2 linked regions of the Homo sapiens genome follow. The protein of the gene in region 1 interacts with the protein of each later gene in a biochemical or structural test. Each region holds a gene or a part of one and is shown in the gene's direction. Other genes may lie near its edges.

Region 1 (6,044 bases):
TTCATTTCTAGAGTCTGACAGTTATATTCCGGCTATGTGAGAAAATTTTTTTTTTTAAGTAAATATACATCAGTCAGGATTCTCCAGGGAAACAGAACGAATGGTAGATATTTTGATAGATAGTTTTATTATAAAAAATTGGCTTTTTGATTATGGAAGCTAATAAATCCCAAGATCCCCAAGATCTTCAGGGTAAGTTGGCAAGCTGGAGACCCAGGAGAACTGATGATATAGTTCCAGTCCAAGTTCAAAGGCCTGAGAACCAATGGTGTAGTTCCAGTCCAAAGGCCGAGTCTAAGACCCAGATGGAGCCAGTGTTTACTTCTGAGTCTGAAGGCTGAGAAAAGCCAATGTCCGGGTCTCAAAGCAGTCAGGCAGAAGGAAGTCTCTCTTACTCCGGAGTGGGTCAGTCTTTTGTTCTAGTCAAGCTTTCAACTGGTTGGATGGGACCCACCTATATTAGGGAGGGCAATTTACTCAGTCTCCAATTCAAATGTTAATCTCATTCAAAATACTCTCACAGAAGCACCCATATTTGGCCAAATATCTGAGCACCAATCCTCTAGAAGTTGGGACATTAACCATCACAGGCCGTGCGTGGTGGCTCACGCCTCTAATCCCAGCACTTTGGGAGGCTGAGGTGGGTGGATCACCTGAGGTCAGGAGTTTGAGACCAGCCTGGCCAACATGGTGAAACCCCCCTCTCCACTAAAAATACAAAAATTAGCCAGGCGCCATTGTCCACGCCTGTAATCCCAGCTACTCAGGAGGCGGAGGCACAAGAATCACTTGAACCCAGGAGACAGAGGTTGCAGTAAGCCAAGATTGCATCACTGCACTCCAGCCTGGGCGACAGAGTGAGACTCCATCTCAAAAAAAAAAAAAAAGTTAACCATCACAGGTAGAGTTTAATAGGCTTTATCTCTGAAACTTAGTCTCAAACAGTCCAGAAAATAATTATATATTTGTAGATAGGTACATACAAATAAAACAAACAGTGAATTGTTAATATTTGGGTAATCTAGGTATCAGGATAAAGGATATACAGGAATTATTTGAACTGTTTTTTTTAACTTTAGATGCACAAACCTTGTAATTATCCTTGACACTTTCCCTCCCACAACCAAGCCATTACCACACCCTGTAGGTTTTACTTTCCTAATATACATCCTGTAGCCACAATTTCTCTCCATTTCCACCACCACCACCACCACCTTGGTCCAAATCATCATCATCTCTCACCTAGACTGCTACAGTAACCTCCCAACTTGTCTCCCTGTTTCCACTCTTGCCTCCTCTACAATCCATTCTCCACCCTGAAGCCAGTGATCTTTGCAGAATACAAACTTAAAGTCAGCTAAATGCAATGCATGATCCTTGATTGGTTTCTGAAAATTAAACATTTATAATGTTTACTTAGACTGTGCTGCTATTACAAAATACCACTGACTGGGTAATTTATAAACAGAAATGTATTTTCTCACAGTTCTGGAGGCTGGGAAGTCCAAGATTACGGCACTGGCAGGTTTGGTATCTAGTGAAGGCCAGTTCCTCATAGATACGCCATCGAGGTGACCTTACATGGCAGAAGGGACAGAAGGGGCCAACTTACCCCCTCAAGCTCTTTCAAAAGGCGTTAGTCCATTCTTGAGGGTGGAGCCCTCATAGCCTTATTACCTCCTAAAGGCCCCACCACTTAATACCAACACCATGGATTAATTTTCAACATGAATTCTGGAGGAGACATATTCAAACTATAGTAGACACCAATGAGACAGTTGGGGAAATCTGAATATCAACTGTATGTGATTATAGTATTGTATGAATGTTAAATGTCTTGGATGTGGTAATGGTATTGTGGATATGTATGAAAATGTCCTTGTTCTTAGGAGATACACATTGAAAGTACATAGCAATTAAGTGTAAAGAATTTTGTGGGGCCAGGCGCAGTGGCTCACGCCTATAATCCCAGCATTTTGGGAGGCCGAGGCGGACTGATGACCTGAGTCAAGACCAGCCTGACCAACATGGAGAAACCCCGTCTCCACTAAAAACACAAAATTAGCCAGAGTGGTGGCGCACGCCTGTAATCCCAGCTACATGGGAGGCTGAGGCAAGCAAATCGCTTGAACCCAGGAGGCGGAGGTTGCTGTGAGCCAAGATCGCACCATTGCACTCCAGCCTAGGCAACAAGAGCGAAACTCCATCTCAAAAAAAAAAAAAAGAATTTTGTGGCTGGGTGCAGTGGCTCACGCCTGTAATCCCATCACTTTGGGAGGCTGAGGCAGGCAGATCACTTGAGGTCAGGAGTTCCAGAGCAGGAGGATCACTTGAGGTCAGGAGTTCCAGACCAGCCTGGCCAACATGGTGAAACCCCATCTCTACTAGAAATGCAAAAAAATTTAGCCAGGTATGGTGGCACCAGCCTGTAGTCCCAGCTACTCAGGAGGCTGAGGCAGGAGAATCACTTGAACCCAGAAGGTGGAGGTTGCAGTGGGCCAAGATGGCGCCACTGCACTCCAGTCTGGGCAACAGAGTGAGACTCTGTTTAAAAAAAAAAAAAAAAAGAATTTTGGGCCAGGCGCAGTGGCTCACGCCTGTAATCCCTGTAATCCTGGGTGGCCGAGGAGGGTGGATCACCTGAGGTTGGGAGTTCCAGACCAGCCTGATCAACATGGAGAAACCCCGTCTCTACTAAAAATACAAAATTAGCCGGGCATGTTGGCACATGCCTGTAATCCCAGCTAATCAGGAGGCTGAGGCAGGAGACTTGCTTGAACCCAGGAGGCAGAGGTTGCAGTGAGCCAAGATCACGCCATTGCACTCCAGCCTGGGCAAGAAGAGCAAAACTCCATCTCAAAAAAAAATAAATAAATAAGATTTCTGCACCTAACTCAAGTGATTCAGCAGAAATAATTATTATTATTTCATTATTATTATACACACATACATTAAAAGAGATACAAAGCCAAGTCTGGCAAAATCTTATCAGTGAACCTAGGTGAAGAGTGGATAAATGGGTTGCTCATTGTATTAATCTTGCAAATTTTCTGGAAGTTTTAATTTTTTTTAAAGGCTAGGGAAAACAGTGTATGTCATAGTTTAAATTTCTTGAGTGTGATAAGGTTATTGTGGTTATGTATGAGAATATCTTTGTTCTTAGGAGATACATATTGGAGTAGTTAGGGGTGAAATGTCATGCTATCTGCAACTTACTTTCAAATGGTTCATCCAAAAAAGCATATAAATATATTTTAAAGTATATGTAAAGTACTTAAATATATGAGTATATATGTACAAGTATAAAATAAATATAAATGCAAAAAATGGTGGGTCAAGTGAAAGGTAGAGGGTGTTGCTTTGAACTATTCAACTTTTCTGTGGCTTTGACATTTTTCAAAATGAGAAGTTGGGGAAAAACATTTAGAAATATGTAAATATATTAAGGATACAAAATAAAATTTAAATAATTTTACAAGTTAAGAATCATCCTGGAAAAATTACATCCTGTTACATCCCTGCTTAAAACCTCAGTAGCTTCCCACTACTTCTAGGATAAAGACAAAATTGCCTAACAAGGGCTACAAGGCCTGGGGTGGTCTGGCCCGTTCCTCTCCTCCTGGTACCCTACTCATCACCATCAGCTGCCCCCTAGGCTCCAACCACACATAACCACACCCTAACTACACCAGAAGGAAAGACTCCCTCAAAATTCTCTCTCCTCCTGTCCTTTACACATGCAGCTACCAAAGCCAAAACCTCACTATGAGGGACTGAGAAATGGATTCTCATGTTGTTTCTGCTGAACTGTTTCCCTAAATCTCGGAAATATTCTCTGCCCGCCTCCCATTCCACCTCTCCAACCCCGGCCAAGTCTGGGTAACTTGCCTCCTTAGCATCCTGTGTTTATCTCATCGTAGCACCTAGTACCCAGTATTGCAATTGTCCGCTCACTTGTTAGTCTTCAGTGCTCTGTTGTCTCCTTGAAAACAGGGCCTGACTTGACTCCCCAGTCCCCAGCACTAGTCTGGGGCACAGTAATTATGTATTCAATCAGACTTCCATTTTCTTGCATATAAAATAAAGGAGTTGGGCTGGATGATCTACAAGATCTATTGGCAGTAAAATAGATCTAATAATCCCAATCCCAACTGCGCGTGAATTCCCTTTTTCTTTGCATTGCTGGGTTCAGACTTTCTGACCACCTTACCAGTGGGGAGAATCCGAGACTACAGTTCCCATGAGCCCTCAGGGCACCACGTGGTGCCTGCCCGTGCTACCAACGCGCAGCGAGGACTCCATTTCCCAGCGTGCCTCAGGAAGGGCGCCAGGACTGCATTTTGCTCCGGAGCGTCCAGAGTCCTGGCCCTGAGCGGGAATCGCAGTGGCCGAGGCTGAGCGGCAGGTAGAAGGGGCGTCTCCGGGGCTTCACAGGGAACACAGGGGCTTCGGCCCAACCACAAGTACGCAGTTGCACATGCCCTACTTTTGCCCATTCTTTGCAAATCCCCTAAGGAACGAACGCGCCTCGCGTGCGGGCCTTTCTAATCTTCGCTTGTCCCTTCACTTCCACAGCTGGAGGTCGAATTCACCACGTCACGTAGAGAAAAGGGGCGGTGTCTCGGGTCTCCCCGTGTGGCATCAAGGCGGGCTCCCTATAGGAGCTGGTGTGGACGTCCGGGCGTGGGGTTAGGGCGGATGCGGGGATCGCGGGGCGGGTGTTGACATTGTGCTCTCACCAGGCGGATCGCCCCGACCCTCACTCCTGGCGTCTGAGTCTCTGGCGTAGCCCATGCTGAGTGGGCGGCTGGTCCTGGGTCTGGTCTCCATGGCTGGCCGCGTTTGTTTGTGCCAGGGCAGCGCGGGATCCGGGGCCATCGGTCCGGTGGAGGCCGCCATTCGCACGAAGTTGGAGGAGGCCCTGAGCCCCGAGGTGCTAGAGCTTCGCAACGAGAGCGGTGGCCACGCGGTCCCGCCTGGCAGTGAGACTCACTTCCGCGTGGCTGTGGTGAGCTCTCGTTTCGAGGGACTGAGCCCCCTACAACGACACCGGCTGGTCCACGCAGCGCTGGCCGAGGAGCTGGGAGGTCCGGTCCATGCGCTGGCCATCCAGGCACGGACCCCCGCCCAGTGGAGAGAGAACTCTCAGCTGGACACTAGCCCCCCATGCCTGGGTGGGAACAAGAAAACTCTAGGAACCCCCTGAACCCCAAGAGAGGGAGGACCAGGATCCGAATGGGCTGGGTGAGCACGAATTACCGAGGCCTTCCCTTTGATACAGTCCAGGATTTGTAAGGGATGAAGACCCCTGGGCCCCATTCTGTTGGGGTCCATACATACTCTCCGAAGATAGCAACTTGCTTCAGGTCAAAGTGAACCCGAGAAAAGAGAAGAATCACTCACTACTGCTCTTGCCCTGGACTATTCAGGAAGGGCAGCCCGGATGTTCCATGTTAAATCGTGACAGAATTGCACCAGACCTGATGAGTTGGAAACAATCCTATACATTAAAAGAAATTACACTATGAGGCTGTGTTCTTAATGGACTGCTGAATCAGTGCCACAGGTGTTCTTGGGAGAAGAAAGATACTTGTAGACTAGTCGGGAAGGGCTTTATGAGGGAAGTGATCTAGTTGGATCTTTAAAGGAAAGCACAAAATTAACCAGAAAGGAGAGGATAGGTGCTGCAGGCAGGGAGAAGAACCTGAGCAAAGACATAGACGCTGGACTGAGAAGTGAGTTAATGGACAAGACAGGGGATATAGGCAGGGACACATTTGAATTTCATCTTGAGGGGGGGAATGTTTGGCTTTTTTACAGCCTGTTCATTTCCAAAAAGTAGTATTTGTATTTGTTTAAAAGAAAAATGTTTTTAAAAACCACTAAAGCAGTGAAAAGAGGATAAGAACTAAGAAAATGATTACAGATGATGAAGAAACCTTTATATAGCCTTTTTTTTCTTTTCTTTTCTTTTCTTTTTTTTTTTTGAGATGGAGTTTCGCTCTTGTTGCCCAGGCTGCAGTGCAATGGCACGATCTCGGCTC
Region 2 (7,998 bases), on another chromosome or scaffold:
GGACTTGTTGGTGATGCTATGAATCAGCAGGAAAACAGAAATTGCATGTGAAGGCAACAAAACTTAGAGACACAAGTGCTAATGTCTATCAACATATTATATTAGAAAAAAACATAATTTGGAGACCAAAATGTCTGAGAACTGTTATCCTAGGGTTAATGTATGCTTCGAATGAATTCATGTATACACACAAAAATTTAACAAAAAAGTACAATCTATGCAAGATGATAACATTTGGGGGTAAATATTTATGAGCAGAGAAAGTACACACAGATTTCTTACAACGCTGCAGCCTTTATATGAAGAAATTCTTCAATTATATACAAACTTCGGCAGACATCAATTTGGATTTTTCCAAAATCCAGAAAGGGGAAAATAGATGTGGAAAAATCTGAGGAAAATCAAAAAGAACTCAAGTACTCAGCGACGTTTAAGACCAGAACCCAGGACTACACCTCCACCCAAATTCCAGGACAAAACTGGGTTGTCATGGCATCTGGGCTTTTCATAAATGCTCACCTATCTCCCACGGTCTATTCTAGACTGAACTAACCAGATCTACAGCATGCCCTTTCTCTTCAGTGACCCAGTGACTCAGGGCAGGTGAAGGGAGCAGGACTTGTGTGACACAGTGGAGGCTGGCCTGCCTTCCTGTCTCCAAGATGTGGGCGGCAGGGATGAGCAAAGCCTCGGCCAAAGAAGTATTAATAAACCAGCTGCCTTGTCAGATAGAGGTAGTCGAAATCCAACAAGCATTTCTATCTCCACAATAGGGACTAGAAAAATTCTGAGGGCTGCATTTTGCTTCAGTTTCTTATACATTACATTATTTTTGGTGTTATCAGGGAATCCAGGTAGTTCCAGGGTTGCAGTGATGCTCTAAAACTACTAGATGATAGCTCAGTGCATCACAGAGGAAGCTTTCAGGTTCCAGCTCAGGTCAATAGAATCTGCTATTTTAGCTTAGGAATGCGTGGTGGTTCGGCCCCTTGTACAATCCAAGCAGCCATTTTGCCCTTAATATGACATTTGCAGAATGTTCTGGCCAGCTCAGATAGACACTTCTGTACCACACGTTCTCATGCAAACACACCCTCTCATTTTCTAAGAACAAACAAGAATGCAGCACTGAGCATAAAATGAACAGGGCCAGTGCGGCGGCTCACACCTGTAACCCTAGCACTTTGGGAGGGCAAGGCGGGAGGAGTATTCGAGACCAGGTGTTGGAGACCAGTCTGGGCAACCTACTGAGACCTCATCTTTTTAAAAAATAATTTTTTAAAAAAGTAAAGGTACAGAAACACTGACATGTGGAGTGCTCAGATAAAGCATCACCTTCAGTTCAATAATCTGAACTCTAGTTCTTCATTTGGGGCTGATAAACGGAAGAAGCTATCTCAGATATGTGGAGGTTTACACGATGAATTCAATGGCGAATTTGTTTTTGGAGAAGTGGATAGAAAACAGGAGTTCTACCAAATATAGTAAAGCCTTATCTATAAATAAACACAAGGAAGAAAAACATTTTTAGGATGCCTGAGTCAGCATGTTTACACGGCATGATTATTTAGTTTGGGGTTTAACCAATCCTGTGACTCAAATCCCAGGATTCTCAGAAGTTCCTGAGTACTTCCCACCCTCACCTCTTCACTAATGTTCACGAGGCAGGAAGCCATCACATGCTAAGACAGGCCATTTACTCAAAACACCCAAAACATCTGGTCATAGATGCAGACTGATGACAACTGTTTATTTAAGATGTATATTTTGTCATGTTTTCATCATAGGACTAAAGAGGAATCTCAAAACCAAAATGCCAAACTTTATGCAAAAGTCTGATACTTTGGACGAAGTATTTTGAATACTGTTTTCTTTGCTTCTTAAGATCACTGATGTTTGGTGCTAAGTATTTCACTATATTTTGGGTTGTTTTATTAAAAATTTAAATTTAGATGTATTGTTTCAATTTCTTTGGTTCAGATACATGATCTGTTTCCTGCCCTTGCTCATGCTATCAAAATAGCTCCTTGAAAGAGCACCAACATGCTTTTCCATATCCTTAGCATTTCACACACTGTATGTTCTTATCATATTCTACAAAAACACGGCAACTTCACTATGATTTAGCAAAACACAGGCTTTGTACTCTTCCTTCTCAAGGATTACTCTTAATCTTTAATGGCAGCTGCATTCTCAACTTAATACAACGTTCAACAAATAAAAAAGACAACTGCTTCTGAGCCCAATATTATACATTAGGTAAGGAACACGATACTCCTCATTACTGTTCTGTCTCAGGATATAAGTTTGCAAATTCTTCTCCTGATCTCAGTCAACATAAAAGCAGAATTACAGTTTAGAGTGGGCAATGAGAAAGGTGGAATCAAAATAGACACAGGGAAGGCCATAAAGAGTTCGCAAGCATAAATGCCTGATAGCAAAAACGATCACAGAAGATTCCAAAACCACAATCCTGCACAAAGGCCATCTCAATCTTACACAAAAAATACTTCTGCAATGCCTGCCGAGCACCTGCCTGTCCAACCTGGGACTGGTGTCACCTTTGTTACTGATCCTTGTAGTCAAAAATAATTATCTCAAAACAATTATGTAACCCTCCTCATTTTTCCTTTAAAGACCTTTGTCTTCCTCTATCTCCCAGGATACACACAGTTAACTATCGCATGCATTTTCTCATTGCAGTGCTCTATTCCTGAATAAATGCCATTTTCTTTTAGAGAGCCTCTCTCTGTTCGTTATTTAAGTTGACAGCAACAAACAGTTTAGGTTTTTGGCAACAAATCACCAATATTTACTTAAAAACAAACAAAACACTTACAACACAGGTAGGAACAACAGGTTATTTTGGAAAGAGTTTAATATATTCTCTATTGTTAAGTGCACCAGATGCTGGACTTCTGAAACAACAATTATGCTTCTGCATAATAGCTTTTTCTACATATTTCTGTTCATGTTGCTTGTTCCTCTGATTTACCTGGAATCAATGAATCTGAAAAACAAAAAGATTCTTTAAGCACCTGGTAAATTTCAGGTCCCACATTAGAAAATGAGCAATCATCAATAATATTGATGGGGGTGAAAATATGACATTGAGACTTTCGGGTAATGTGCCGAGTTTACTTTCATAGTTTACTAGGCTCAGGTTTCATGCCGAAGGATTATTTGAAAGACTCACTCACTGACATGATTTTCTGATTTTAAATTCGAACACTCTCAAAGCATAAACAGATCACCTCCAGCAACATTGTAAAAAAATACTCAAAGTTTAAAAAAAAAAAAGTAACTTGTGGCAGTACTTAGTGTTCAACAGAAAACACTCCATCTGCTAAACAATATCTCGACTGCAAAGCTTCTCTTACTGTTGGCGGATAGATAATGACATAGCCCAGTCATTATCACCGTGGCAACAGTGACCAGAAACTATCAGAGGAAAATTGCACATGGAACAGCTGGCTCTCGAGCAGGCATGCCTCAGCTTCCTCTGGAGTATGCTTTTTCTGCAAGTCTGGTGTGCTCGAGGGTACCACCAACCCTGTGCGGCTCCAAGACTACAGATTATGTAGCAAGTCCACTGGTCCTGCTCTTCCGGATTTATTCTTCCCGCCAATAGGAGCACTTACCACGTTCCAAGCATCGTCCTAGGCACTGAGGATACAGCAGTGAATAAAACTGAGTGCTGGGTAGGAAGTCAATAACCAAGCTAGTAAATAACTGTATATTGTCAAGCACTGGTAAGTACAAGGGAGAGCAGAGCAAGCAATGGGCCTGATGAGGCTTGCTTTGTCTCCTCTGCACTCCCACACTGCTTTGTATCTGCTTCTCATTTCTCACGATGGGTCCAAGCTTTGGGCACCAGGTCTCCCTGGACATTCCGCGCTGGCACTGCGCCTAGCACCCAGCGGCTGCTCAGGAAACGTTTGTCGAACGAACGAATTCACTTCTTAGTTCCCCATTCAACAAACCTTTCCTGATCCTAGGCCCAACAGGTTAAAAGGCTGGAGGGCCAACGAGGCTGGAAACTCAGAGGCGGCCGGGGGCGGTGGCTCACGCCTGTAATCCCAGCACTTTAAGAGGCCGAGGCAGGAGGATCCCTTGAAGCCAGGAGTTCGAGACCAGCCTGGGCAAAAAAGTGAGACATCGACCCCCCGCCCCCGCCGCCAATTCCGTCTCTACAAAAAGGAAGAAAAAAAAAAAAAACCCAGAGGAAATCACACAGGCAAAAGCGCTTTACAAATTTTAAAAATGAAAACTGTTCTAGAGAAATAATCGCGCGCCGGAGGCGGAAGCCCCAGAGCCTCAGCTCCCACGTGGCGGCGGAGCCAGGGAAAGTCCAGGAGCCAAGGCTACGGCCCGAGCGCTGGAACCCCGGTCAGGCTCCGGCTCCCCGCCACGACGAACTGCATGCGGCCGCGGCGCTCCGGAGGCGCCCGGGGACGCTCACCTAAGCTGGGAGAGGCGGATACCCGCCCGGCCTAGCCCCGCTACCTCCCAAGAGACCAACACGACAAGCGCGCGCCCACCGCATTGCCATGGCAATTCAACCGCCGCTGACACCGGAACCGGAAACTTCATCAGGAGGTGACCCCTTCCCGGCGTTCCGCGGAACGGGCGAGTCCCGCGCCTCTCCCAGTTGTCTCGGCGTAGTCCAGCTGGCCTCATTGGCTCACAGGAGGAAAGTCGTCTTCCCTCTTGTTTTGCCTCTCGTTGCCCTGCAAGCGTGACCCTGATGGACATCCAGTCTCTCCAATTAACTAACAAAGCGGTTGCCGACGACCAATAGTAAGGCAGTAGGATGAGGCTCCGGCATAAGGCCCACCTCCTACCTGCCGGGCGGGACGAGCAACATGATTGGTGGAATCGAGTAATTACTGATCAGTATTGTCCAATCACGGAGGGCAGTTTAGAGCCGGCCCAATGAGGGCCTCCAGGGGGCGGGTCGGACTGCCGCGGGCCGGGGAGCGCTCTGGGTGGCCAGCTGTGGGCCCGGGCCGTCGTGGGCTCCGGCTTGCGTGCGGAGATGAGCGGGTCCCTCGGCCGAGCTGCGGCGGCTCTGCTCCGCTGGGGGCGCGGCGCGGGCGGCGGTGGCCTTTGGGGTCCGGGCGTGCGGGCGGCGGGCTCGGGCGCGGGCGGCGGCGGCTCGGCGGAGCAGTTGGACGCGCTGGTGAAGAAGGACAAGGTGGTGGTCTTCCTCAAGGGGACGCCGGAGCAGCCCCAGTGCGGCTTCAGCAACGCCGTGGTGCAGATCCTGCGGCTGCACGGCGTCCGCGATTACGCGGCCTACAACGTGCTGGACGACCCGGAGCTCCGACAAGGTCAGGCCAGTGTGCCGGGCAGGCGCCCTCCGCCCCGGGCCCAGGAGCATCGCTGCACGAGGCCGAGGGGTTCCGCCGCGCCGGGCTGGGGAGCGGGGCTCCATCCGCCGGGGTCTGTCTGAAGGTTCGAGCCGGGTTAGGGCGAGGAGTACTGCCCTGGAGTAGAGTCTGGGCTGAGGGTGTAGTTGATTTCACTGGGTCTTGAGGATCTGGGGCTCTGTACTGTTGCCAACTTGAGCAGTAGGTAAAGTCCTAAAGGTTCACTTATCCTCACTTCGAGCTAATATAGGCGTTTCGGGGCGATTTGTCAATGACTGACTCGGAGGAGGGTGGCCCGCTGCCTGACTGCTCTGCACGGTTAGGAAACTCATAGTAAGGACCCACTGTGAGATAGGTACTTTCGCGGACACTTTGGGGAGGTTGGAAGCCATTGGCCTACTCGTGGGTAAGGTCTAGGGCTGTCGATGGTGGGGAGAGGGCTGAGGTTGCCCTTGAGGCTAGTGAGGTCGGAGGCTGATCTCGCTTGGCTCACGGCTCAGGGTGTCAAGCATCATCCTCTGTGGTTGCTACAAGCAAAGGGTTGGGACAGCTGTCGGCTGACCTTAGTCGGGATCTATGTTGTCGGGGAAGAGTCATGACATTTGGCTTTAGATACTCAAGCACAGGGCTGAATTTATGTGGGCCAGGGCTTGGAGAGGTTTGTGGGGAAAAGAAGCAGCCCTGGCTCCTGGGCCCTGGGCTAACTCACTGGCTCAGCCTTGGAGCCCAGGGGGCCAGGGCACCAGGGACCAGATGGATTAGGCCGGGAGAGGGAAGGCTGCAGCTAATAAGCATCTTTTCCAAGTACTCCACGTGCATTCGCCAGTCTTATCTGAGTAGGGGAGGAGGAAGAGGCCAGGCACAAGGGCCTGCTCCTTGGCCAGGATGGTCAGGGTTGGTGGAAAACTGGGAAGGCTGTACCTTTTCCTTCTAGAGAGTGACTTAGGATACCTGCATCCCAGTTAGAGACTTTCAGTGACTGAGTCCCTGCATGTCCCTAGCTAAAAAGAGGTGCCAGTTGTGTGCTAAAAATAGGTGCCAGGTTCTCTGTTACTCTAAATTCGAAATTACTAATCATAGTCATTGCTTACAATGATGAGACAGGCTGGTGTTTGGAAAAGCTTTGGGTTGACATCCTCTTCTGTGGCTAATCAGGTGTAAAACTTAAGTCACTCACCTGCATTTGAGGATAATGAGACAATTTGGCAAAGTTTGTGTTAGGAAGCCAAAGTAAAAATTATAGAAAGTGTGTATTATTTTACCTGGCACAGAAAGCACCCGGTAAATGGTAGCTGGCTTCGTATTAGCACTTGATGGTTTTCAAATGTATTTTTTCCCAGATTATCTAGTCCTTAAAGACTCTTGGGGATAACTGATCCTCCATTTGCTGTAGGTGATAGTGGTGGTGGGTGGGACCTAGAAAGCATGTTGAGTTGAGGAGTCGAGAGGGCAGGTTCAAATTACCACGTATATGTAATATTACCATGTGTTATTCTCATGACCCTTTTGTCTTCCTTGTCAACTAGTATGCCACCAGTTACTGGGCTCAGTTTTATCATGTGCAAGGCAAGGGACCTGCAGTCTTCCTTCGAAGACAGCTTCTCTGCTTAAAAGAGGAGTAACTATTTTGCAGTCTTTTGACAGAGACCTTGCAGGGAGTCCCCTGCAAATTGCCAATATGGCACTAGTAAAAAAGTGGTGTTGTTATCTCGCTTAGTATCATGTTTCGAGGGTCTTTGGTTTGTGAATTTATTTTCTCTTGTTTAATATAACTGGAAATGAGATATGCTGGAATATAGCTAGTAAACGGAAAATAGGAGCAAAAATACGAATATGTACTGATAACATTTTATTTTTCTGTCTTTTATCCACGTCTGGTGTCTGGTTTCTGAGCTTACTTTCTTAAGTTTTCAAACAGCAGCGACAGGAATTTAACCCTTACATTCCTTGACCACTGAGTTTCATCAGATTGCTATTTTGGTTAATAAACGCGTTGCATATATATTGAATATAACATACCTCTTTTATTGATTAGAAAAGTAAAGATTAGTAAGTATTAACATTTGGACTGGGCAGGGTGGTAAAAGCACGTTCCCCAAATGGGGATTAGTTCAGCCAGGTTATTAAGACTCTTCCCCTCTTCCCTATACAGCTTTATTTACCAAGAGCAACTAACGGGCTGTCCGATGCTTGCTTTTGCCAGCCGAAACTATGTTTGTACACCAGATCCAAGGTCATTTCTAGTAATAGGAACGGAGCTCTTGCAAAACTGGCCTTTTGTTGGTTCTTATGCCAAGGAGACCTGAACTTTACAAAGTGCCTAAACCGGAGGAAAACATTCTTTCCTAGTTTTGAGTACTGGGTTCCCAGGAGTGTGATACAGACACATCTTGAGACTGTGACCCAAGGAACAAAGGTGACTATGAGGCAGCATTGTGTTCTGGCCTTCTCAAGACCTTCTTGTCCTTCTCTTTTTATCTGGAGTGCACACAGAAGACAGTCACAAAGGGATCAGGTCCCAGTAGACTGACATCATCATTTCCTAATCCTGGTCTTAATAAAGGAACTTATGCTCATGGAAGCAATGTAGAAAACACTGAAAAGTTTAAAGAAGGAAAATCACCTG

What was found.
Region 2: the proteins of BOLA1 (region 1) and GLRX5 form a complex in vitro, tested with the Homo sapiens proteins (2 studies listed by BioGRID).

The regions. Positions count from the first base shown.
Region 1 is NC_000001.11:149,895,268-149,901,311, forward strand, and holds BOLA1 (bolA-like protein 1), read left to right. Parts: upstream 1-4,300; 5' UTR 4,301-4,405; exon of another isoform or gene 4,406-4,463; intron 4,464-4,575; exon of another isoform or gene 4,576-4,742; 5' UTR 4,743-4,792; coding exon 4,793-5,206; 3' UTR 5,207-5,528; downstream 5,529-6,044. UniProt on the Homo sapiens protein: Acts as a mitochondrial iron-sulfur (Fe-S) cluster assembly factor that facilitates (Fe-S) cluster insertion into a subset of mitochondrial proteins. Probably acts together with the monothiol glutaredoxin GLRX5. May protect cells against oxidative stress.
Region 2 is NC_000014.9:95,530,052-95,538,049, forward strand, and holds the start of GLRX5 (glutaredoxin-related protein 5, mitochondrial precursor), read left to right. Parts: upstream 1-4,998; 5' UTR 4,999-5,038; coding exon 5,039-5,333; intron 5,334-7,998.